Regions from separate parts of the Homo sapiens genome. Here region 1 is linked to region 2. Evidence: fine-mapped expression QTL. A gene starts in region 2. The other region holds a variant in brackets. All regions are shown on one strand. Distances are between the middles of the regions. Region 1 overlaps PTCD2 (pentatricopeptide repeat domain 2). Region 2 holds the start of MAP1B (microtubule associated protein 1B).

Evidence for each region. PIP is the estimated chance that this variant, and not a neighbour inherited with it, causes the effect.
Region 1: its variant is fine-mapped to the expression of MAP1B in minor salivary gland (GTEx, PIP 0.93).

The regions. Positions count from the first base shown.
Region 1 is chr5:72,360,872-72,372,938 of GRCh38, reverse strand. PTCD2 (pentatricopeptide repeat domain 2) reads right to left here. Exons shown (of 10, transcript NM_024754.5): 10 at 4,544-12,067. Among named protein-coding and RNA genes, the nearest start is that of PTCD2, 47 kb to the right of the region's middle. The variant C/T (reference allele first, on the strand shown) is at 5,168.
Region 2 is chr5:72,102,427-72,114,493 of GRCh38, reverse strand. It overlaps MAP1B (microtubule associated protein 1B), which reads right to left and starts at 7,019. Exons shown (of 7, transcript NM_005909.5): 1 at 6,779-7,019. The coding sequence starts at 6,962. LOC105379028 (a long non-coding RNA gene) reads left to right here and starts at 1,007. Exons shown (of 3, transcript XR_007058813.1): 1 at 1,007-5,719; 2 at 6,507-6,569; 3 at 10,860-12,067. RefSeq lists enhancers at 5,418-5,712, 6,118-7,100.

The DNA of each region.
Region 1 (12,067 bases), 260 kb before region 2:
TAGGTGAGCAACTAGATATTTTGGCCAAGCAAAAAAATCTCCCGGAAGTATTGATCATTTCATATATGCGTGAATCTGCTGATACTGTTCATATGAATAATACACACAGAATATTGATCTCCCAAGAGTCATTTTCATTTCATTTTGCTCTTTTCCTTCTCTTGCCTGAAACCTTGGAAAGCTAACCCCACACACTCCTTTATGCTCTTCCTTATCACTTCCCTGAGCCCCTTTCATCTGCACAAGAGCATCAGACAAAATATTGTGACCTGTGCACAACCTCAAAGTGTACTGGCACATCTGTTCCAGTATCTATTGATTTCTAAAGTCATTTTCTCTCTTCTCATCAAGAAAACCCAGACAATTCTGGGGTGGAATTTGGTAATCCTGGATTGAGAAGTGAAGATCACCTTGTTCTATGGAAAGTGAAAGAGGAATTGAAGCAAGGAAGCTAAAGTTCTTCATGTAGTTCCAGAATATCGACTTTCTCCTCTCCTCTTGAGCTTTTCAATTGCCACCAATAGTCAAGGCCTTGTTGCCTGGTGCATTTTTTAAATTATGGCTTTCAATATTTTATTGTGGTTAGAAGAAGATGGGCAAGTATTAAAAGCCCATCGTATTCTTCAAAGACTACTTGTTTTGCTCTTTAATTAACATACAGTAAAATCATTTTCTTGGTGTACAGTTTTATGAGTTTTAATGCATGTATGGATTCATGTAACCACCACCACAATCAGGATATGTAACCGTTTCATCATCCCCCAAAACTCTCATGCTGCCTTCTGTAGTCACACTCTCCCCCACCGAAAACTTGTAACCACTGATCTGTTCTCTTTATTGTTTTGCCTTTTCCAGAAAGTCATGTAAATGACACTTGCCAATTATGTATTGGCATCAGCCAGTATGCAGCTTCTGAGACAGCCTTATTTTCCTCAGTATCACACCTTTCAGATTCATCCATGTTGTTGCATTTATCAATAACTAGTTCTTTTTTATTGATTACTAGGATTCAATTGTTCTCGTGCATATTGAACTCAGCAGCGGTTTTCAGTATAATACAGACCCCATGGGTCCCAGGAAGAAAGGCCGGTTGGGTAACCAAGCGAGGAAGTAGCTAAGGTTCATTCTTCAAATTCTACGGTTACTTGTCATAATCATGTTGGGTGATCATCTGGAGATGAAGAGGCACAGCGGTTTTTATTCAAGAGCAAAAGAAGCCAAGAGAAAGCCGAGGCCCAATCACCTCAGGCTTTCAATAGACCCCTTCCCCCGTGCGGCATCTGCGAGTTCTTTTTTTATTTTGTTTTGTTTTGTTTTGTTTTGTTTTTGAGACGGAGTCTCGGACTGTCGCCCAGGATGGAGTGCAATGGTGTGATCTCAGCTCACTGCAACCTCCGCTTCCCAGGTTCAAGCGATTCCCCTGCCTCAGCCTCCTGAGTAGCCGGGATTACAGGTGCACACCACCACACCCAGCTAATTTTTTGTATTTTTAGTAGAGATGGGGTGTCACTATGTTGGCCAGACTGGTTGATCACTAGTATCTTGACCTCGTGATCCGCCCGCCTTGGCCTCCCAAAGTGCTGGGATTACAGGTGTGAGCCACCGTGCCCGGCCGCGAGTTCTTAACCTACTTCACTTTCAAGCTGCCCAGTGTCTTCCTGACTCAGGCTAATGTAGCAGTTCTCCCCAGCGGGTGATATTGCCCCTCATAAAGCATTTGACAAAGTTGGGAGACATTTTTGGTTGTCAGGACTTGGGGACTGCTACTGGCATCCAGTGGATATTGAGTACCTAAGTGCCAGGCAATATTCTGTGCTGGGGATACAGGTGTGGACACAAAAGGCAGAGTCCCTGCCCTCATGGGGCTTACAGTCTAGAGCAGGGGTTGGCAAACTTTTTCTGTAAAAGGCCAGATGATCAATATTTTCAGCTTTGTGGACCATGTAGTCTCTATTGCAGTGTGAAGGCCAACAAAGACAATGTGCAAACAGATGATAGTGTCCGTGCCCCAATGCAACTTGACTTACAAAAGTAGGCAGCTTGTATGACGTAGCCCTCAGGCTGTAATTTGCCAACTCTTCTTCTAGCGAGAAGACAAATCATTGACAAACAAATATAAAATTCAAGTAGTAAGTGCTATATATTTTTTTTAAAGGCAAGATAAGGGATAGAGAGGAGGAAAGGTGCAATTTAGACTAGGTGGTCAGGGAAGGCCTCTCTGAGGAGGTGACATTTGATCAGGCACCTGAATGACATGCAGGACTGAGCCAGAGGGAACAGCAAGTGCAAACGCCCTGAAGCAGGAATGTGCTGGTGTCTTCAAGGAACAGAAAGAAGACCAGGGTGCAGGAATAACGCACGGAAGGTGTGGGGAAGCTGAGGTTAGAGAGGTCAGTGGGCTCAGGGCATGTTAGCACTTGGACTTCGGAGTTGATGCTCAGGGTGCTGAGAAGCCTTGGGGGCTTTGGGAGAGGGATGCCATGTTCCACATTCTCACCATCAAGCAGAAGAGTTCAGGTGACTTTTCATGGCCTCCATTCATCCACATGTGGGTTTGGGTGAATTAGTGAAAGGTGCCTCTCCCTGTTGGCAGCAGCAGCCTTGGATCCTGGCCTCCACTCCCCACCTCTGCCACATGCCTGTAGTTGGGGTATGACTTGCACAGCTGTACATTCCAGTCCTTGGTCTTAAGTGCTGCTGAGGTTACTTAAACTTTAAGCAAATGGTATTCTTCAGACTTTCTAGGACTTTAATATATTTGGTATGCAAATTATTGTTATTAGGCAGTGGTTTCTGGGGCTCCAGCTCAGTGTTCCAGGGCAGATTGGAGAACATCTAATCTGAGGGTGCCCTTCCTTTTCCCTTGAAAGGAATCTCGACCCATTCCTGAGACCTTTCACTGCTGGGACCAGCAGTCCCCCTTCTTTGCTTTGAGGTAATGCAAAGTGGTATGAATGAGGGAAACAAAGAGTAAGCAGCAAAGGCATCTCCCTAAGTTATGGAAACTTGCATAAAAGGAACCTTGTGGCAATAGTGAGGCCTTTCATTTCCTATTCTTTATTAAATGACAGGTTGCCAGGAAAGCACTGTCACACATTTGCATGCAGGTTAAATTTCTCAAAATCTGAGCCCCTACAGCGAGTGACAGTGGGAAGTGTGAAAGAAAGGCTCAAGATTCGCTGCTGTGCTGTTGTTATTGTCAATGGGTAAATTTCTTTAGCAACTTGTGGTTCTATTGGAACTGACTGGAACAAATCCAGCCATGAGCTATTTGTTAGTTGGTTTTCTTTTCTATTTATTATTTTGAATGGAAAGCATGATAACCAGGGATAAATAATGAAAGGCATTTTCGTTATCATCATTTAATACCAAACATAGGTGACTACAGAAATCCTAAAATAACTAGATGAGCTCATCATGGACCAACATCTTTCACTTTTCTAATGTGCTTTTGGAGGTTTTGACACCAGGAATGCTGCAGTGCTTTCCAAATAGTGTGGACTTTACCTAGAAGTATTATGAACTGAGTCATAATGAACATCATGGTTCACTCTTTTCCCATGGTTGTCTTAATTAGCTGCACAATTTTCCCTGATCTCACTTGAAACAATCTTCAAATTCTTACCCAGAGGTTTGATTGAGCATTTTCTATTCATTTGTCAATTCTAAGAACTAGTTACTGGGATTAACTTACAAATGAATATTCCTTCCCTAATTGCTGCAGACAAATGCAGTTTGGCTGCTTCAACTTAAAACAATAAAGATGAAAGTAGTAGTATAATATAATTAATTTTGTGGTAGTAAGCATCTTCTAAGCTGTAAGTAGAGGATGAGACATGTAGTTCCAGAGTTGGGCTTTAAACCTACATCTAAAGTTCATTGTTATTAGGTGGTATCTGAATATTAGGCCTGGAAATACTGAATTGGCAAACATTTTTCTGTTTTTAATCTTTCCTCTATGTTTTCCAGGGGAAAAAACTGATATTTGTTAATATTCTCCTTCAAATAAACTGGGAAAGTTAAAATGTACCTTGGGTTGCAGTAAAAGATGGTTGTGTAGTAGGTTGATCTTTCCCATGGCTTACCTTGAGGGACTTTACTCATGTCAAAGGCTGCATAAGATGCTGGGCATTGGGAGACACATTTGGGGAGCAAATGGACAGCTCCAAGTGTCCTTGTCACCTTTCTACAGGATGTAGCCCAAGGGCAGCTGGTGAGGAAAATGATTTTTAGGCTTGTTGCTTGCTTTTCTCAACTTGGCCTACACATCTTCTCCCTTGAAATAAGAGTTTTAGGCTTGGGAGAAAACAGGACTGAAAGCAAACCTCTGGCTTCTCCTAAGTTCCAGTAAAGCAGCCTCTACTCTGAGTCAGTGAGTGAAAGAGTGAGAACACAGGAAGCCAAGCTCTGTCACAAAAGAACCTGAAAAAGGGACCTAAAATATTTTTTTTTCAAAGGGAGAAGCATTAACAAAATGATGGGGAAGACACAAAATAGAAGAACAGAGAAAGAAGAGGAAGTAAAATTCAAGGAGAAAAAAAAATCATAACACATTAGTTTATTTGAAATGTGAACAGACAGCAAAATTGCACATGGCCCATTTAGTCCAGCTTGCTTGCCAACTCTTCTACTCAAAGACAGGGGGACCTATTCCGCCTATCTGTCTCAGAACCTTTAAAATGGGGTCAGGAAATTTGCTACTTGGGCTTAGCAATGTGCTGGTTGTCTTTGTCCCACACTCTGCATCTATCTAGGTGTTTTGCATATAAGAACATTTCAATAGCATTAAATCATCAACAACCTAAAAGTCATGTCTACACCTGCAAAGTGAAATGTGGAATTGAGATAGTTTAGAGAAGAAAAAGGGATTTTTGAAAATAGACCCAAATAGTCCATATGAAAAAAAGATTTATACTTTTGGGCAAGACTCATGGCCCACTGAATTTGATATTTTGACTCTAAGGGTGTATCACAGGCTGTGGAATGAAAGGGGTATAGGAGCCCAGAGCCACTCAATTGGTTCACTGGTTAACCGCCCAGCTCTCCACTTTGTCATGGTGGGTCCTGCAGAAGTGAGCTTCATGCTACTGATTATTTACTTGCAAAGTGGGCGTTGTGCCTGGGTGATACCCTGCCTCCCTATGCAGTGCAGTAGAACACAGCCTAA[C/T]TGTGTTCCTCCCTCCACTTCTAACACCTGAATGAGATAAAAGCCTGCTTAACACAGCATGTAAAGAAAGACTGAGTTCTGGCCACTCAACTCCAGACTCCTAGAGGTGTTTGACCAAATGGCCATCAACCAGGTGTTTTGGGTTTTTTTCATTTGATAAGTGAGGTAAATCACAGACATTATGTAAGGAATATGTACAATAGGATTTTCCCCAAGATTTTTTCTAGTACCTTTATCCCTGAGCTGGTGTGGCCAAACCATACCAACTCTGTGGGCCACATTGTTTAGAGTCATTAACAGTTTGTTTCTTTTACCTCATCAGTTGTTGTACAATGCACAGTTGCACTAGGGTCTCCTCTAGGTACTTTGGGTGGTTTTCAAGAATGTATCTATCGATGCCCATGAAGAAGTCATCTTGAACAAGGGCATCTGTCCTTTCTTCCTCCTGAGCTCTGGTCTCTGTCAGGGATATCTCTCATCAGAATCCCCATCCCAGCCCCAGTATAGTTAGTGCTCTGTGAAGTCTCAATATATATTAAAGTTTCATGATAATGGGAATTTCATCTTTGACCTATTCTTAGAGATGGGCAGTGATAAATACACCGGGAATCCAACATTTCCCTCACTTAAATGGAGAACGCTCCAAGATTTAGTCATTCCTGATGATGGCAGGAAGAGACAGTAAGGTTGACTATCATTTGATGAATCTGGAAGGGTAGAGAGACAATCAAAATAACCAAGATCCTAATTCCTTTTTACTTCTTTCACACACAAATGTGATTTTAGTTAATAAAGGCAAACAGTTAATTGGGGGGATTTTCCTTCTCAATTTGGGAGGAAACCCTTTCCCAAGTGAGACAAATGACCATCCTTTTTCTTTCATAAGAAACTGAGTGTATGTTTTCTCACAAAACATCTAATGTGTGTGTGCATGTGTGCTCACGTGTACACGCACATGGACACATTGCATGATACTTACATTGGTCTACTTTCTGCAGAGGATCAACTTTACTGCTTTCTCTCTTTTAAAAGTATCCTTTCAACACTAAATATTTCTTAACCTGCGTGAAGGCAATATTCTATATACTCCCTAAAGTCTATCTACAGCTACCTTTCCTGTCTAGCCTGCTATGTGGACCTCTGTTCTCTCTGAATTCCAGAAATGCTTTTGAAAACTAGCACCTTTTAAAAATAGTGACTCTGGACGCCCTCTGCCGTCTATTGTAAGTTCTTCAGCTCTGCTACTGACAGCAAAGCAGGAAGTTGGCCAGGGATTATTGAGAATACATGCACACAGCCAGCACTTGGGCAGGCAATACAGAGATAAGGTTAAAAACATGACCTCCAGCATCAGACCTCCTGGGTTCAAATACTGTGCTCTCCCGCTCTCTAGTGTTATATCCACAGGCAAGCAACTAAACGTCTCTGAGCTTCAGTTTCTTTATCTGAGAAATGGCATAATAGTACTTTATGGGGTTTCCCAGGGATCAAATGAGATAAAGTGCTTTGCACAGGACCTGGCAAATGGTAAGTCTTATTATTATTATTATTATTTGAAACATAGTTTCGCTCTTGTCGCCTAGGCTAGAGTGCAATGGCGCAGTCTAGGCTCACTGTAACCTCCGTCTCCCAGGTTCAAGCAATTCTCCCGTCTCAACCTCCTGAGTAGCTGAAATTACAGATGCCCGCCACCACGCCTGGCTAATTTTTTTGTATTTTTAGTAGAGATGGGGTTTCACCATGCTGGCCAGGCTGGTCTAGAACCCCTGACCTCAGGTGATCTGCCTGCCTCGGCCTCCCTAAGTGCTGGGATTACAAACTTGAGCTACCTTGCCCAGCTGGTAAGTCTTATATGTTATCTATTTTTGTCTATAATCTTTGTAATTTTATGAACCCTGGCTTTTTATAAGCCCCGTTTTTGTTGAATTCTGTATCACCTAAGGACCAATGTGTTAAAAATCGATTATGATCTTCTAAATTGGAAATGACATTTTCTCTGCTCTCTATAGCTTTTTTATATAATGACAAGCTTTTTAGGCCAAAGCCTCATGATGCATGCAGCCATCTTGCTACCAGCTATAACCGGAACATACTCCTCACCCTACCTGACATCAACCCAGTAATTTGCAGCTATAAAATGGAAGGTTAACTTAATCCTCTTCAGTCTTCATGGCTACATGAGTCTCCCTGGGATGCGGTAGAATACATCAGCAGATTCTGTTACTATTAGTTACCAGGAATGAGACTTGCACTTGCGGATTCAAAATCAAATTGAGTTGTAGGGCAGTCACTTTGCAGGGGTTATGCCTTCCTTCATGCTGTCAATTGTAACAGATGATGTTGCTGTCTAGGGGTAAGGGCTACTTTGGGGATTGAAAGACAGGGTGATGCTGTGCTCTTCTGGGTGAGCATCTTGGCCTGATTCAGTCAGGAAAAAGGAATCAGGGAAGACAAGGGATTTACAAAGAAAGCATCACTCTACTCTGACAATGCATTTCCAGGCAGGCCCGCAGTTCACAGACCAGTTCACAGACCGTGATGCCTTGCAGGCCATCTCAGAGGCCCCTGGTTCTCTTTCTTCTCCTGATTAAATGAGGCCTTCCTCTCCTATCCCAGAGCAGCCAGCTCTGCAGTGTTTCAGCTGCAGGGCAGTGATTAGCAGGTAAGCATGTGGTTCCCTTTCCCTCTGGGCCTTCTTTCCCCATCCCCATCTTTAATGCCTGTGGTAATGCTGCCTCTGAGGCCCTTGGAAGAAAGTCAGCTGGGCAAGGCAGGCCAAGCGGGGAGGTGAGCAGTTCAGCAGCGCTTTGATCCTCTTTCATTAGCAACTTGAAAGTCACCTGGAACCGTTGTGCCCACCGCCTACTCCCCCAACCCCTCGCCAAATCACTTCTTTCTCAGATTAGCTGTGTGCTTCGAATGTCTGGGGGGAAACGCCCACGGATACATTACTGCAAGATACAGGGGCCCTGGTCCAGTACATGAATGCACTGGCCAACCCAGGACCCCCGCACAGGCAAGTCATTCTACTTGTCTGTGTCTTGGCTCTGTCATGTGTAAAACCGGGACAGAAACAGCAACCAGTTTATGAGAAAACTGTGAAATGCCTAAAGTATATTGTGGCAGACTGTACATATTAACTAAAATCTGCCGTTAATTAATGAAATCACTCTTTCAAAAAATATTAAGACCTCATTAGATGTATAAATAATATGCTACATAAGCACCTTGGGGTCATATAAAACAAATGTAGAATACTCTGTTCTTCAGGAGAGACCGGATATGGAGAAAAAGATCTGTAACAATACAAGGCAGTGTACTTTACATGTTAAAATAAATGACACAGACAACTGGTTTTACAAAACACCAGCAAAAGGTCTTCCTTTATACATGCCACAGGGTGATATGAAGATTACCCTAGACTTAGCACTTATCCCAACTGCAATCATGTGGTCATTTGCCCAGTTATCTTTTTGATGTCTGTTGCTCTTGCAGAATGCAAGCTCCATGGGAACAGAGGACATTTAAAAAATCTTCTTGTTTTGACTCCATGTTATTGAATAAAACATATCTCAATCAGAATACACCAATTTCCATTAATTTTTGAGAACACTTTTTTGAGCTAATGCCATTTAAGCCAATGTAATTCCTTGATTCATTTTCTATGCAATACAGTTGAACCACTTCCTTTTAAAAAATACCATTTCACTTTTATTTTTGTGCAACCATTTCCTTAGAATCAATTTTACCATGATTTGGTTCCTCACGGTTTCTTATGCATATCAAATATTACTGATGATAGCTTTTGCCGCTGTAATCTTTTTTATGGCTAGTTTATCTATGAAGTGTAATTTCTCTGAATCAAATTTATAGGTAGAAATGTTATGAAGGAAATTTGAATTGTGGGTTATTTTAGTCAAGTCTCATGTAGTTTTGCCACAATTGGCCTTAGTTTGTATGGATTTCTTTATGTATATTTGAAAAAATAAATGGATATATTTTTCAATGTCTTTAACCTAATGCCTTGGAACTCTTGATTCAATTAATTCATTGGTGGGCTTGGGGTCAGCAAGAGAGAATAGCAGAGGAAGGGTACTTATTATGTGTAGGGCAGATGGTAGAGACTACAGACCTCAGCAGTGGGTGCTGGCATGACCCTCTAAAAGGCCTGCTGGGCCCAACACTGCATCAGCACATTATTTACTCAGGAGTCCAGAGACAAGGCCAGACTTCCCACTCTTCCCCCTCCTCACAACTGAGACCAGAGGACACAGAGGATGAATCTGAAGCCCACAACTCCTGTCCACATAGACACACAAGACACACAAGCTTTCTGTTATACCAACTATTCTTAAAGTGTGTTGCCCAGACTAGCAAAGGCATCATCTGAGAATGCATTTGTAATGCAAATTCTTGGGCCCTGACTCATATGTATGGAATCAGATATTCTGGGGGTGGGGCCCATCAATCTGTATTTTAACAAGCTCTCCAAGTGATTCTGATGCCTGTTCAGGTTTAAGATGAGAGCCTGTTCAGCTGTCATCTTGGCTATGAAAAGGTAGGAGGAAGATACGCAAAAAGATTGAACATTTACCTCAAAGAAATCAAAGACTAAAATATCCTTTAAGCAAGATCAAGTCTCCCATGACTCCTGTTTTCAGTATAACCAGAGTTCATAAGAAGTTTTAGTTCACTGCAAAGAAACAGAGAAGCCTACATTTTTGCCTACCCAAATTGTAGCAGGTAAATCCTTACCTCCTCATTATAATATCCCAACAATATTCATTATGAGTAGTTAAAAGTTTGTATTTATTTCCTGAATCATCCTCAACAAAACTATCAACAAATATTGCCCAGGATTGTTTTATTTCACAACCAAGTCCATTCTTCAGTAGGAATTTGGCCACTCTGTAATGAGCACCTCCTACAGAAACAAAAAGATCCCTGGGAGTCAACATGGCAGGCTAAAATTTTCTGTGTTGGGACAGAGATCTTGTCTGTCTTTTCCCTGTGGCATGTAGAGTCTTTCGTAGTGCCTTGTCCTTTGTAGATTCTCAAAATAGATATGGTGAATTAATGGAGAATCCTTGAGAATTTAAAGAGCTTGCAAATGCCTCATTGAAAAAGTGACACAAGTTAGACCTTGAATAATAGGCAGAACAGAATAGAGAAAGAGTGGGGACACTTTGGTTGGGAGGAGGAAGGGATACACAGTGGGCTGAGCAAAACTTGGAGTCAGGTCTAAATGTGGAAGGTTGGGACTGGCTGTCTTAGTCTCTTCAGGCTGCTATAACAAAATACCAAAAACTGGGTGGCTTATAAATAACAGAAATATATTTCTCACAGTTCTGAAGGCTGGGAAATCCAAGAACAAGACACCAGCATTTGGTGTCTAGTGAGAGCCCATTTTCTGGTTCATAGACAGCGTCTTTTTGCCATGACCTCGCTTAAAGGAAGGGGTGACCAAATTTCTTTGGGCTTGTTTTATAATGACACAAATCCCATTCATGAGGGCACCACCCTAATTCCTTCCCAAAGGCTACATCATCTAATACCAACACCTTGGGGATTTGGAGTTCAACATATGAGTTTGGGGGGACATTCAGACCCTGCACTGAGTGTATGGTATTAGAGACGAAAAGCTGTCCATGGGGGACCAATATGACCACCAACATTGTTATACAATATAGTTAAATGAGCTGGTGAGTTAAATAAGTACTAATCCTCTGATACATCCCCTACCATGCTAGGCACCCAGCAAACAGAGCAGAAAGGACAGACATGGCACCTGAGTCTAGTGAAGAAAACAGACAGTGACAGGCATATGATAAGCACTTTGATAAATGAGGTACATGGGGCACATGGGGAGTTCACCTAACCAGGTGAGACTAGACCAGAAAGCCTTCTCAGATGAAAAGATGTCTAAGCCAAGACCTGAATGATGAGTAGGAATTAGCCATTCCACAAGAGGGGAAGAGGGGCGTAGAGTAGCAAGAGTTGGAGCTGGATGGACAAATGTGGGCCAGATTAGGAAGGACCTTCTAAACCATGTTGAAGAGCCTGAGCTTTATCCAGAAGCATGTGAGGTCCTCAGGAGGTTTTAAACAGGGGAGAAAACAGACTATCTACTACAGTTTCACAGAATTTATTCTTTGAAATTCCTACCACTGAGATGGGATATATGCTCCCTCCATTTGAATCTGGGGGGGCTTGGGACTTTAGTGGAAGTGATGTTATGAGACTTCTGAGACTAGGTCATAAAATGTAACTGCTTCTGCCTGGTCCTCTTGGGACAGTCACTCCTAGTACCTAGCCACCATGCTGTGGGGAAGCTATGTGTAGACATGTTCCAGCCCCAGCACTAGCTGAGGTCCTAGCATCAACTGCCAGAAATACTAAGGAAGCCTTTGAGATTATGCCAGTCGCGGCCACAATCTGATGATGACTATAACTGCATGAGAACCCGAATAAGAACTGTCTGGCTGAGCCCAGTCAGTACTTAGGATAATGAGAAATAACACAATGACTGGTGTTGTTTAAAGTCACTGAGTTTTGGAGTGTTTTCCACACAGCAATCAATAACCAGAACTATCCCTGATATCACCTAATTAAGAAGATATCTTTTTGTCTCCTTCTAGTAACTGTGCTGAACTCATCATACTGATTTCTGGGACTCTGGAGCAACAGATATCTACAGTAAGTAAAAACAATCTACAAAAGCACATAACAGAGTTAAGGAATAAGATGTTCTGTCCAATCAAATATTTTCATTAACAGGATAAGTAGGCCAGGTGCGGTGGCTCATGCCTGTAATCCCAGCACTTTGGGAGGCCAAGGCAGGCAGATCACTTGAGGATAAGAGTTAGAGACCAGCCTGGCCAACATGGTGAAACCCCATCT
Region 2 (12,067 bases):
AACAGACATTTATTGCATACCTCCTAAAGGTAAGGGCTTGAACCTCTAGGTATAACACAGCAGGTGAACTATCTCTAAATTAACACCCAGTCATGTAATCATTTTTGTTGGACATTAGTCATGTATACAGACTTGAAGGAATAAATAGCAGTGTGTTACTTAAATACACACTGGATCCTTAAGGCATATTTGTATTTACCCTTGGTTATATTGTATTCAGTCTTCCTATCCTGTAAAGAATCAAGGTGGATTATACATAGACATTACAAAAAAAAAAGATTCTGGAAACTCAGTTCACTGCACATCTAAAATATCTTTAGATTACACACCACAGACCTTTTCAACCAGGAGGAATATTTTCAAATAGATGTGTGTCCACTAAATACAGGCAGAAATTTCTCATATGATCAATGGGAAGAATTCAGATGTGGAAGAGTTAACGTGCTTAAGGAAAGGTCAAATTATAAGGGAGAATTTTATGGCTCTTCCTGGAAACATTAATAGCCTCAGTTTGCATTTGTGCTAATGGAGTATTTGAATTTTAACAAGAAAGGCATGTTGAGATTTCGCAGATCTTTTTAGTGCAGAAATGATAAATGGGTTCTTTTTGTTTCACAGAGAGCTTGACAGGTTGAGAGGTCTGAATTCATTAGAATATTTTACTTCAATGTATACACTATATACTAGTCTAGTGCAAAAAAATCGAGTTCCTGTCTGAGCTGCTTAATTGGTATTGTTGACTGAATTCTCCTTGTTCCAGGTCTGAGCTCTACTTTGTCTTCTACCCTGTCAAGCTGGGTCAATAAGTTAATAATGAGACATATGCATTTAAATTAAATTCATACAATTTTTCTGTCTTTGTTCTAAGTAATGTCTAAATTGGTACATTATTTGAATGACTTCATCCAGGGTTATCTGCAGACTTGCTCTTACATTGTTACTTGCCATTTTCCCTTGGCTTCAGTTAACTTGTCATGGCACACACAATTAAATGTTTGCTTTATATTTTCATACATATTTTATTTTTGACATATTTGTAATTTAGCAATAGAAAAAGTACTAAATGATAAATCCACTTAGTAATTTCTAAATTATACTAGTAAACGGCTGATAAAAATATTTCTCATTTTTACACTCCCAATGAAACTAAAAATGTAGGGTTCTTTTTTCAAGAGAGCAATTTCCACCCAAATTGTTTCTTAGCAATGCACAACCACTACTACCACTTATAAAATAAAGGTTATGTTGGATTTGCCAGCTATTTTAGTTGGAAAGGAAAATTTTGGAATCAGGCCACTTTCCATACCAATTTTAGAAATAAAATAATTTGTAATTACTTTGTATCTCCTGCTGGATAATATTGGTAAAGGCAAAGAGTAGTTGTTAATGAAGGTTCATATTGCATTTAGTAGGTTTATGTAGTTCCCCTTTGTGCCTAACAAGGAGCCAACAGTGAGCCCTCTAAAGTTTACAGGACAGAAAAATATCTCTTTGGCCCTTCCCATATTCTCCCCTCTCTGAATCTGGCTGGAGGGCATCCTGGGGTGTTGGTGAAGAGGTTCTAAAGAGGCTTTCAGAAGCAAGTCATCCTGGTCTCTGTTGGGGAGCAGGGAAGCCCTCTTTCTAATTTTCACCCCAATATACACCAAGTCAAGCTCTTCCTGGAGGCTTTGTTTCCCCAGCATTCTAAGACTGTACCCCTTCTGGGCTTACCCAGGTGGGGGCAGAATAACTCCAGGCAGTTGGAGGCAGTGAACCCCATTCTTTCAATGTCTGGAGCCAAAAGGCATCCGTCATCTCTGAGAACAATCTGGGCCTGCTCTGTGGCTATTGCCCAGCCCTGAAAGTGAGCTCCTTGGGACCAGGGAGCAACAAAAGATCTTTCCTTCTCAGTTCTCTGACCCCAGGTGGTAGCAGTGCACACAAGGGAGGCTGACATGCACATGATATACACAGATGAGAAAAGGAGAAAAGAATAGGTTATGGGGCAGGGAGGCAGGGAGGGGTCATTAAAGAACAAGTCAGGGTGAAAAATGAGGAGAAGTCAGGTACTCTTGGTGTGTACAGGCTAGATTGTTCCAAGTTTTCCAATCATGTAAGCATTTTGCAGGGTTGTTTAATGAAACCAACAATTTAAAAAAGCACCTCCCATTTAAAAGCTAAAATTCATATTTCTAAAGGTGACAGTGGATTGAAGAAAGCAAAATGAAATGACCATGCATTGTATGTTGATGGCACATGGGTTCTATCTGACAGTTATTTGGGCCTTTGGCAAGTTGATTTTCCTTTATGGGCTTTAGTTGCTCCCTCTGAAAAACAGGCTTTTGGATATTTTTTCCAAGTACCTAAATCATTAACCTAGAATCATAAGATTATATTTGTAAAACTATGCTAAAAAGTGGTCTGAAATCAGATTGAAATCATAAACTAAATAAATGAACTAAAGGAAATGCTACATTTAGGAATGCTTTATTTCTCAGAGGAAAAAATTCTTATTTTTTCCCTTGAACTCATCTTTAATTTGCTTTTTTTCTTTTTTTAAAGCCAGCAACTTGATGTTCATAACATATGTATGTAATGACGATAATATCTTACATACAGAGCTCATAGTTTCAAAGCATTGATAATAAATAATTTAGGTCTGAGATAACATCTTACAACACAAGCAAATGAGAAGTGACATAATTATTTGCTTGTCTAAAAAGTTATAACTTATTTTTTTAAAGTAAGCCCTTAGAGAAGGTGAACAATTTAATGACCTTAAATTTGGGGACTGCCTTGTGTTTCAGCATGGATCACAGAGCTGTCGTAGATAATACCAATTAAGCAGTGCAAGCAGAAATCCATCTGTCTTCGACTTTGAAAAGTATAGGCAAATATAGTAAATTTAAGACTCTCTAACATTTAATTCTCACCACATATGGTATTGGTTTCTTATTTCCCCTGTTAAAAGAAAAGGAAAACTAAACCCCAAATCTTTCCTGGGTTTTAAATTCTCTTACCATCTTAGACTGAAGGACATTCAGTTAAGTGACATCAGAATGTAACAATGTAATCAGCTAAACTTTTATCTAAAAATGCAGAGCAGTAGATGTTACATTCATCTATCTTTTCACCAACAAATCTTGCTGATTCCCAGTGTTAACTAAAGGAAAAGTTATAATCTAACGGTAATTGAAAACATCCAACAGACACTTAATATTCTTTATATGTTTTAGTTCCTTAAAAAAAAAATGAAACAATGAAAACGTTCACAAGGCTCTAGAATTCAGTTTGCAAGACACGGATGTATGTCCTCTATGTATTAAAATAAAACCAAGAAGCAGGGTTTTGCTGAAAATGAGAACCACTAGCTAAATCCATGCTGGGGGCTAATTAGGGAGGAGAAAAAGGAGGTGCCAAAGAGTAGTAGTTGGTGGTAGCGAAAACGATTTGGAATAAAGTCCTGCATAACTAAATAAATGAAGCTAGCCTAGTCCGAGGAAACACTATTGTTCCAAACTCTGGAGGAGACATGTCCAAAGCTTTCATTATGCTTTCCGAATATAGTTGAGAAAGCAAGAGGGACCATCTCTCTTCCCTGGTTTCAAGAGGCATTTACGAAGCATCCACATTGGGACGTTCCAGGCCTGTTGATTTACTGCATTACCACCATGTCTCTACAGATTTATAGATTATTTTCTAGGCTTCCCAGAGAGCCCTCAGTAATCGGATGGCAAGAATCCAAGTCGCCAGGGTCTCCAAACCCAGAATCTCAGTTAAGGCAGGAGGGGAAATAGGAAGAAAGAGTAACAGATGCGGAACTGCCTTCCCAGCCTGCAACACACAATCATCAGAGCTGGCCCCCCTGGAGCAGCTCCATCTTGCTTCACACAACAAGGCCCAAAGGCACCAAGCAACAACAGCAGTGGCCTCTGGAGGAGGCCCAGCTGAGACCTGGCGGCTGAAGCAGCAGCTTGTCGTGCACAGGAAAACAGGACCAGCCTGCTCTGTTGCTAAGTCATCTCAGACTGTCTGAAAAGCTATGGGAGCAGGATTTTCACTTAGCGCTGGAAGGGCCTGCATCTTGAGCTGCAGCCAAGACCCCAGAACCCAGGAGAGCCATCTTCAGAGGAAAAGCAGCATCTGCTACGGTGTGTAAAGAAACGGCTCTGCTCACTCACTTGGTTGATTCTTAATGGGATCAATACAGTCATTTCGGAGTTCCATGCAAAAACCTGACCAAATTAGGGAATTAAAAAATCAGGAAGCCATGATGTCTATTGCAAAGGGAACACAAGGGGGCTTCTGGGGTTCCAGTAATGTCTGTTTCTTGATCTGGGTAACCCAGGCGTGTCCGTTTTGTGAAAATTCGTTGAGCTGCTCATCTTTGATTTGTGCCCTTTCCTCTCTATATAATACTTCAACCGAATTTTTTAAAAAATTAATGTCAAGAAGACAAATCTGAATTTTGTCACTAAGTGCTAGTAGTGTAAAAACGAGTAAAGGCAGGGAGCCCTTCTTCATAGCAGTACGTGGATGCGTCTGTTTTCTCCATAAATAGATGCAGCTTGTATAAACCCTCTGAGGAATAGGGCGCTGAAAGGATGATCAGATGAGTAACAAAGCAGGAAGATAATTACGATCCGAAGGTGATTGCTGAACCATCTCCCAGCATGGGGCGCTGCCCACAAGTGGATGGCCATACAAAGGCAAGCCCTGAAAACTGTTGTACTGAAACCTTCCTCCCATCATAGGATGTTAGCCAACCCTGCACTAACATCATGACAGGGTCAGAAAACGAGTGACGCTGCAGTACTGGTACTTCTGTCACTTATGAGTGCTGTGACCTTGAGCCGGTTCTCTTACCCTTCCTGCCTCTCTGGGCCCCCAGCTCTAAAACGGGGTTGATGATCCCTCTCCTAGCACCACCACATCGAATGGTTATGAAGATTTTGTAGATAGAAAAGCACCTCCTAATATATTCCTATTTCCCAGAAATGCTACTTACAAATAATTTTTTAAAGAAAAAAATCCAAAGTCATTGATTCCCACAATAGCCACACCCAAAGTCAGTATGTGTAAAATTTTTCCAGGAGAAAATTGTGCAAATAAACTAAATTAGAACAGATTAGACCAAAGGCCTATATAGTCTGAAAATGAAGGGTTATTGAGATGCTCAAATAAGACATTTCACTACTGAAATATCTCTTGTTCTTGAATTTTTTGGAATAAAATACTATGACTTTCTGCTCACATTTTTTTTCTTTTTTTTTTTTAAGCTAAAAGGGAAAATCAAGTGCTTTAAAGTTAAACAAAAGAACCAGGTCTGCAACTCCAGTCCCCACCCTGCAGCCTTTTGTTCTGGGGACAAGTGGCCGTTTCCAACTGCAGAGGCAGATGACAAGCATTTATTTTTTCATCTAAAACAAGGTTTTTCTTTCGTCTTTTATTGGGGAGGGGGAGTGGGGAACGAGGGCTGCGTGAACGCCCTTTGTCCGCCTCGGGCTGCCGTAGAGACCGCAGTGCGGACTGCACCACGCCCACCAACCGGTGTCTCCCGGAGAAACGCTTCAGCACCACCCCAGGAGAATAGAGCGCGGGCTGGGGCTGCGGAGGGACCCGGCGACCTCTGTCAGGAGCGAGGGGAGGGCCGGGACGCCAGGGATAAAGGGAAAGGCAGAGACCAGAGCTGCCCACCCAGGGACTCCCAGGGCAACAAAGCCAGGCAAACTGAGAGGTGGGGGCGCGCGGCCCCCGCCAGCCCGAGGCCCGGGCGGAGCGCAAGCCCAGCCAGCCGTGCCCGACGGGGGCGCCGCAGTGTGGGGGGGCAGGTGTGGCGGGCGGTCCGGAGGCACTGCGGCAGCTCGGGTGGGGCTGGGGGCGGTCTCTCTGTGCGCCCGAGGCTGTGCCCGCCGGACCCTCACGGCCCCGCCCAGGGTCCCCGGCGTACCGCTATTCGGCCTCCGCAGAGCGCGCCACTGGTGCGAGCACCGGGCGAGGAGCTGACCCTACCCGCTGACGTCTCCCTCACCGACCCCCTTCAAGCTACCACTCCCGAGGCTGGGACTTCTAAAAGCAGCAGCCCCACCCCGCAACTTGGGGTCCCATTGTCCTTTCTGAGAGCTGCAGCCAAGGCCCCAAGGGCGGTAGCGAGGCGGGCTCTGTCTGGTGGCGAAGCGCAGGCGGTTCTGCATCCCAGCATCTCCCCGGGGAGGGGGGGGCGGGGGGAGCGGGCGTGGCCCTAGGACTAGCCTAGTCATTCTGAGGAAAGAAAGGATCGGGAGGTTTGAAATCAGAAAAGGCGTTTCTCAGGGGCTGAGGTAGCCGTGGTGAGGATGAATCCCACGCGGGCCCTGGCACATGGGCTTCGGCCCCAGGTCTGCGGTGGTGGGGGTCCCAGCCTTTTCCTGAGGCCAGAAGAGGACTGAAAGGAGTGGTTGCATCAGGTCTCCCCCACCCTTCTGCCTCCTGCGGTTGCGGCTTTATTGTGGCCTCTGCTCCCCTGACACCTGCATTTCACTTAGCGGGAGAGGCGGTGGCCAACTCAGCACAGGCTGCGGACTCAGCGTGGTGACAGATCCCTCAAGGTTATTGGAGACTCTCCCTCTGGGTCTCATATCTAATAATTCGGATTATTCTTAATTAGCCCAGAAAGGGTCTGGACCAAGTATGAGAGGTGACGAGGAGAGGCATGGGTGCGGGGCGCGCGGGAGGAGCGCAGTGACCGTCGCGCCCTGGGTGGGGTCGTGTTTGCGCGTCTCCCAGCGCGCGTCTCTGGGGGCGCGGGGCCACTTACCGAGCTCGATGTTGCCGATGGCACGCCGCAGGTGCTCCTCGGTCACGATCTCGCCGACGACCACCAGCAAGTAGAACTTGCTGTCAAGGAAGCGGTGCGACAGGCTAGGCGAGGTGGACGCCGCCGGGTTGGCGATGCTGCCGGACGGCTCCGGCTCGGTGGCTTCCACCACCACGGTCGCCATCCTGCCGGCTGCTGTGCCTCGGCGAAGTGTCTCGCTCCGGCCGCTCCTCTCCACTGCGGCAGGAGAAAGGATTATCTCCGAAGGTACTGTCTCCGCTCCGCCCCCTGCGTCCCCCCTCCTCTGGCGCCGCGCGCCGCCTCCCCCTCCGCCCTCTCCCAGCGCCGCGGAGAGTGCGCGGCGGAGAGGAGCGGGGAGTGAGAGAGGGCGGGGAGGCGGCGCCGCTTTTATATGGAGACTAGGCAGGGAGCCGGGAGGAGGAGGAAGAGGAGGAGGAAAGGACCACCCGGCACATCCTCACGCGGTGGCTGCCTCCGCTCTTCCAGCCGTTGGCCCGGGGCTGATGTCATCTGCAGCAAATCATCTCGCCCGCGGCCCGGAAGCTGGAGGGACGAGGTGTGCGGACAATGGTCGGGGCAGGGCCGCGAGCCAAGGGGCTGGGGCGCCCGCTGAGCTCCTGCTGCAGCCGTGAAGGGGGAAGACGCTCTCAACCTACACCACCCACCACGTACACACCCACTGCCCACTCCTCACCCTCACCCTGTCTGTGCATGGGAATGGGATGAGTTTCCATTTTCGGAGTGGGGGTCTTTTCTCTTGTTGGAGTTGCACTAGTCAGGCCTCTGCCTTGTGTGCTGTGTATGATGTAGCCAGGTTCTCAGGAACTGGGATAGCCACAGTGGGCAGATGCGGGGCTGTGGGTACCCCGCCTAGGAAGACGGAACCTGTCTTTTCTTTGACCTTGTGGCTTTAAGAAGACGAATTTACTGATATTTACCAATATCAATATTTACCACCTTCACTTAAAGAATACATCAAAAATGCAAAACTTAAGCCTACTATTGTTCAGGCCTTGGATTCTACTCTGGCAGGGCCAAGGATGAAAAAGTACTGGCTTTGTGGTGCTCATGGGAAATGAGAGAAATGCAGATGTATTATATTAGATACCAATTTCTTTCCTTAATGTGCTGAACAGATAGTATCAGTAATAACAAAGAATAAAGAGAAGATACTGTCTCTACTCAGCAGGGTTACAGTGACTATAATGTACTTTTCAGTTCCTTGGGGAACACACAAGCAAAATTACCTCGTGACAATGATGTCTTTTAAAATACCTGTAGCATTGGGAATTTTTATTGCCTTTGTTTGTGTTTAGAAGAACTAAAAAATGTGTTTTTTGTTTTTGTTTTTTTGTTTTTTTTTTTAAGGCAGCCTATTTACAACCGTTTCTCACAAACATACTGAATATAGCTTCTGTCCCAGAAAAGGGGAGGAGGGTGAGGAAAGAGCAAAATGTGCAAACATGGTATCATAGAAGACTGGGGAATTCGAGCTTTAAGGAAGAGGAATAGATGGAAATTAGTCAACATAGCTTTAATACTAGAATGCCTGTTAGTAAAATATAGATGATAGATAGATAGATAGATAGATAGATAGATAGATAGATAGATAATCACCTAGATATTCTTAAGATTTCCAAAATAACCCAGTGTCTTAGGTGTTAGCTGCCATGACTTATTGGTCATGTACTCTTTGCTCTTATATCTTTCCTGACACCCTGGCATGGGAGACATGCTGGGCAGCCAAGGGCTGGGGGGTTCCATCCAACATGTCAATCTGATCAATGCAGAATGAAAATACCGTCTGGCCCGCAGTATTTGGGATCTGTGACAGGATCACTAGAGAGTTGCATTCACCAGTAATTAGATGAAGTGTTTCCAACTAGCTGCATTCACCAGTAACTAGATGAAGTGTTTCCAGATAATATTTTGGTTAAGATATTCAATTGCTGTTCAAGAAGTAAGGCCAGCACCAAAGCCCATAACTGGGGTGAGGGGCAGGAAATATGGTGAAGAGCACTGTTTTCTAAAGGTCATCCGTTGGATTCCAGCCTCATCTAGTTTGTGTTTGGTTTTCCTTTCTTTGAACCATTGTTACTTTTATGTATGTAATAGTTTTCTTTTATGCAGTTTATTTCTTTTACTTAAATTTATTTTTAAATGCAATTCTATGTTGCTGTATAAATGGAAACACTAATATCACTTATTAATAGAAAGTATCCCTAAAAATATACACAATGAAGATAAGATGTGATCAAATTCCTGCTACATACTGTTATGATTTGCTCAAGACTCTGAGTCCAAGGCTCTCCTTTCTTGGTTGAAAACAGAGATTGGCCAAGTGTTAGAGAGGTATTAAAGAGATACTAACACCTAACTGAGTTGTTCTCCATGTTGCAACAGAAGATTGGATGAAAATTATAACAGAGCGCTTTCTTACTGTGTGTGTCTGTGCAATTAAACACCATGACCGTGACCACCTAAGTCATCACCCACACTTTGAAAAATAGAGGCATAATGGGAGAACACAGACTAGGGATGCAGAATACTACTTTACAGCTCGGTAACTTTGGCAAGTGACTTACTCTTTTTGATCTTCCATCTCCTTATTTAATGAGAAGAAGAACATCTTTATAACTGTTAAAGTAACTGTAAGAAAGAAGGAAATGATAGAATGTGTAAGCACCTAATACAGTGGCTGGGCATAGTAAGCAATCAAGGGATGGTTGATTCATTGACCTGTTTTCTCCCAGTTACTAAGACAATGGAGCAAAAGCAGTCTTATAAAATGTGCAAGTGATACTGCTACAACACCTCTGAAACAAGAACAGAATATTACATTATTATACTTCAATACTAGAAAAGTAGCCCCTTCCCCTCTTCATCCCAAGAAAATGTATACAGTTCTAAGGAGGAAAAAGGGGGAAAACTAACATATAAGAGCACCAATATTGCCAGCTGCTCAACTGACATCACCTGGATATACCAAAGGCACCAGAATCTTGACATGCTCCAAACCCAAATCATCTTTTACCTCTAAACGGGATCCTCTCTCATTCTTGTTATTTCAATGAACCATAACACCATGTATCCCATGATGCAAACCAAAACCTCACAAATATTTTGGACTCTCCCCTGACCCTTAGCCTCGTGTGCAATCCAGCATGGAGTCTGGTCAATTTCACCTTCAGTATCTCTTCAATCCATCCACGTTTCTCCATTATCACCAACCTAGTCCAAGCTAGCATCATTGTGATAGGTACTAGTGTACCGGTTAGAAAATGGGTTCTGGAGTCAGACTGCCTGGTTTTGAATCCTAATACCATAATTTATTAGCTGTGTGGCCTTAAGCAAGGTGCTTAACCACTCTATACCTTGGTTTTCTCATTTGTATAGTAGAGATGAGTACCGACCTCATGGACAGGAGGACAGTTTAAATATGCAAATTACTTAAAACAGTGCCTTGCATATAATGAGCACTTAATAGGGATTAGTTGTTTTTGGTATGGGGTTAGTTGTTTTTGGCTGTTATTGTTTAACATTTTACTATGGAAAATTTCAAACAGAGAGAGTATAATGTAAGTAACACCCACATACCCATTATCCCCAATCCATAGATTTTTATAGTTTGCTTCTTTAAATCAAGATTGAAATAATGTCTATATATTTCAACTGATTCATCAGTCTTAAACTCCTTTGATCTATGTAATCCTGCTATTTTTTTCCTTGTAATTTTCTGTTGAATAGTGGCAACATTGTTCAGCAGAGTTTCACAAAGCATAAATTTTGCCGATTGCATCACCTGTTGTGTTATTTAACATGTTCTTCTATCTTCTGAATTTTCTGAGAGAACTAAAGTCTTGATCAGATGCAGATTTGATATTTTTTACATGTATACTTCATAGGTAATATTGTGATCTTCCATCAGAAGGCACCTAAAGACTAGTTAACCCTCATTCTGTGATTTTAGCAGCTATTGATGATCATTACCTAGATCCATTATTTCACTATGGATTGAAAAAATGATAATATTCTAATTTTGTTATTATTTATTTGACAGCTAGAAGACTTCTGTTAGGAGAAGCGTTATCCTGTCAGTTGATTACCCTGAGGTACGGTATGTACAGGAAAAGAAGGATAAACAAATGATTTTTTCTCTTTATTTACTGATTTTCAAAATAATTAATTTATTCCAAATCATTCTCTAAAGGTGACTAATTTTTTGTATCATTACAAATATAACTTACATTATTCATATTGATGCTTTCATTTTTTCATCTTTGGCCAGTAGTATGGTAAGGTATCCCTAGCTTACCTTGCACATATCTGGCCTCAGAACCTGGAATGAGCCGTTTCTCTATGGAATCCAAGTTCCTTACGTGGGTAATGGTATTTGGAGACCCCTGTATACCAGGTGCTACTACTATTTTGATCATTGTTTCTAGATATTTTCAGTGGACAGAAATATGAAATAAATTGTTTTTCAAGTATGAGTTCATACTTATACCTCTAACTCAGAATCGGGACTACAGGGATTTTGCCTAACGTTTTATCTTGCATCTGTATTTCCTTTGTCCTATGCCTAGAATTCCAGTTTTCAAAGACTCCAAGGTGACAGAATTAGAACAGCAGATAGTTTCTCATTTTTCTTGTTCCACAATATATACAAATTACCCTCATGGTAGTTTTAGATACGAATGCAACACTTTTGCCAACAATGTGATTACTAAAAACATTTTAAGGTATATAGTTTTTTTGTTTGTTTGTTTGTTTGGTTGGTTGGTTGTTTTTTTTGTTTTTGTTTTTTTTTTTTTTTTTTTTTTGAGACCGATTCTCACTCTTGTTGCCCAGGCTGGAGTGCAGTGGCGCCATCTCGGCTCACTGCAACCTCTGCCTCCCAGGTTCAAGCGATTCTCCTGCCTCAGCCTTCTCAGTAGCTGGGATTACAGGCACCCACCACCATGCCTGGCTAATTTTTGTACCTTTAGTAGAGATGGGGTTTCGCCATGTTGGCCAGGCTGGTCTCAAACTCCTGACCTCAGATGATCTGCCCGCCTCAGCCTACCAAAGTGCTGGGATTATAGGTGTGAGCCACCGTGCCCAGCCTAAGCTATATAGTTTTAAAGTGTAATTAATTCTGTTATATATGATCGTGCCACTAACTCAGTGCATAGTTATGTTCATTTGTTTCATTTTGTTTTCAGTTTTTATGAATTGATTTTTACAATTTAATTTTGCTTTATAGTAATGTAAAATATTTACATGGTT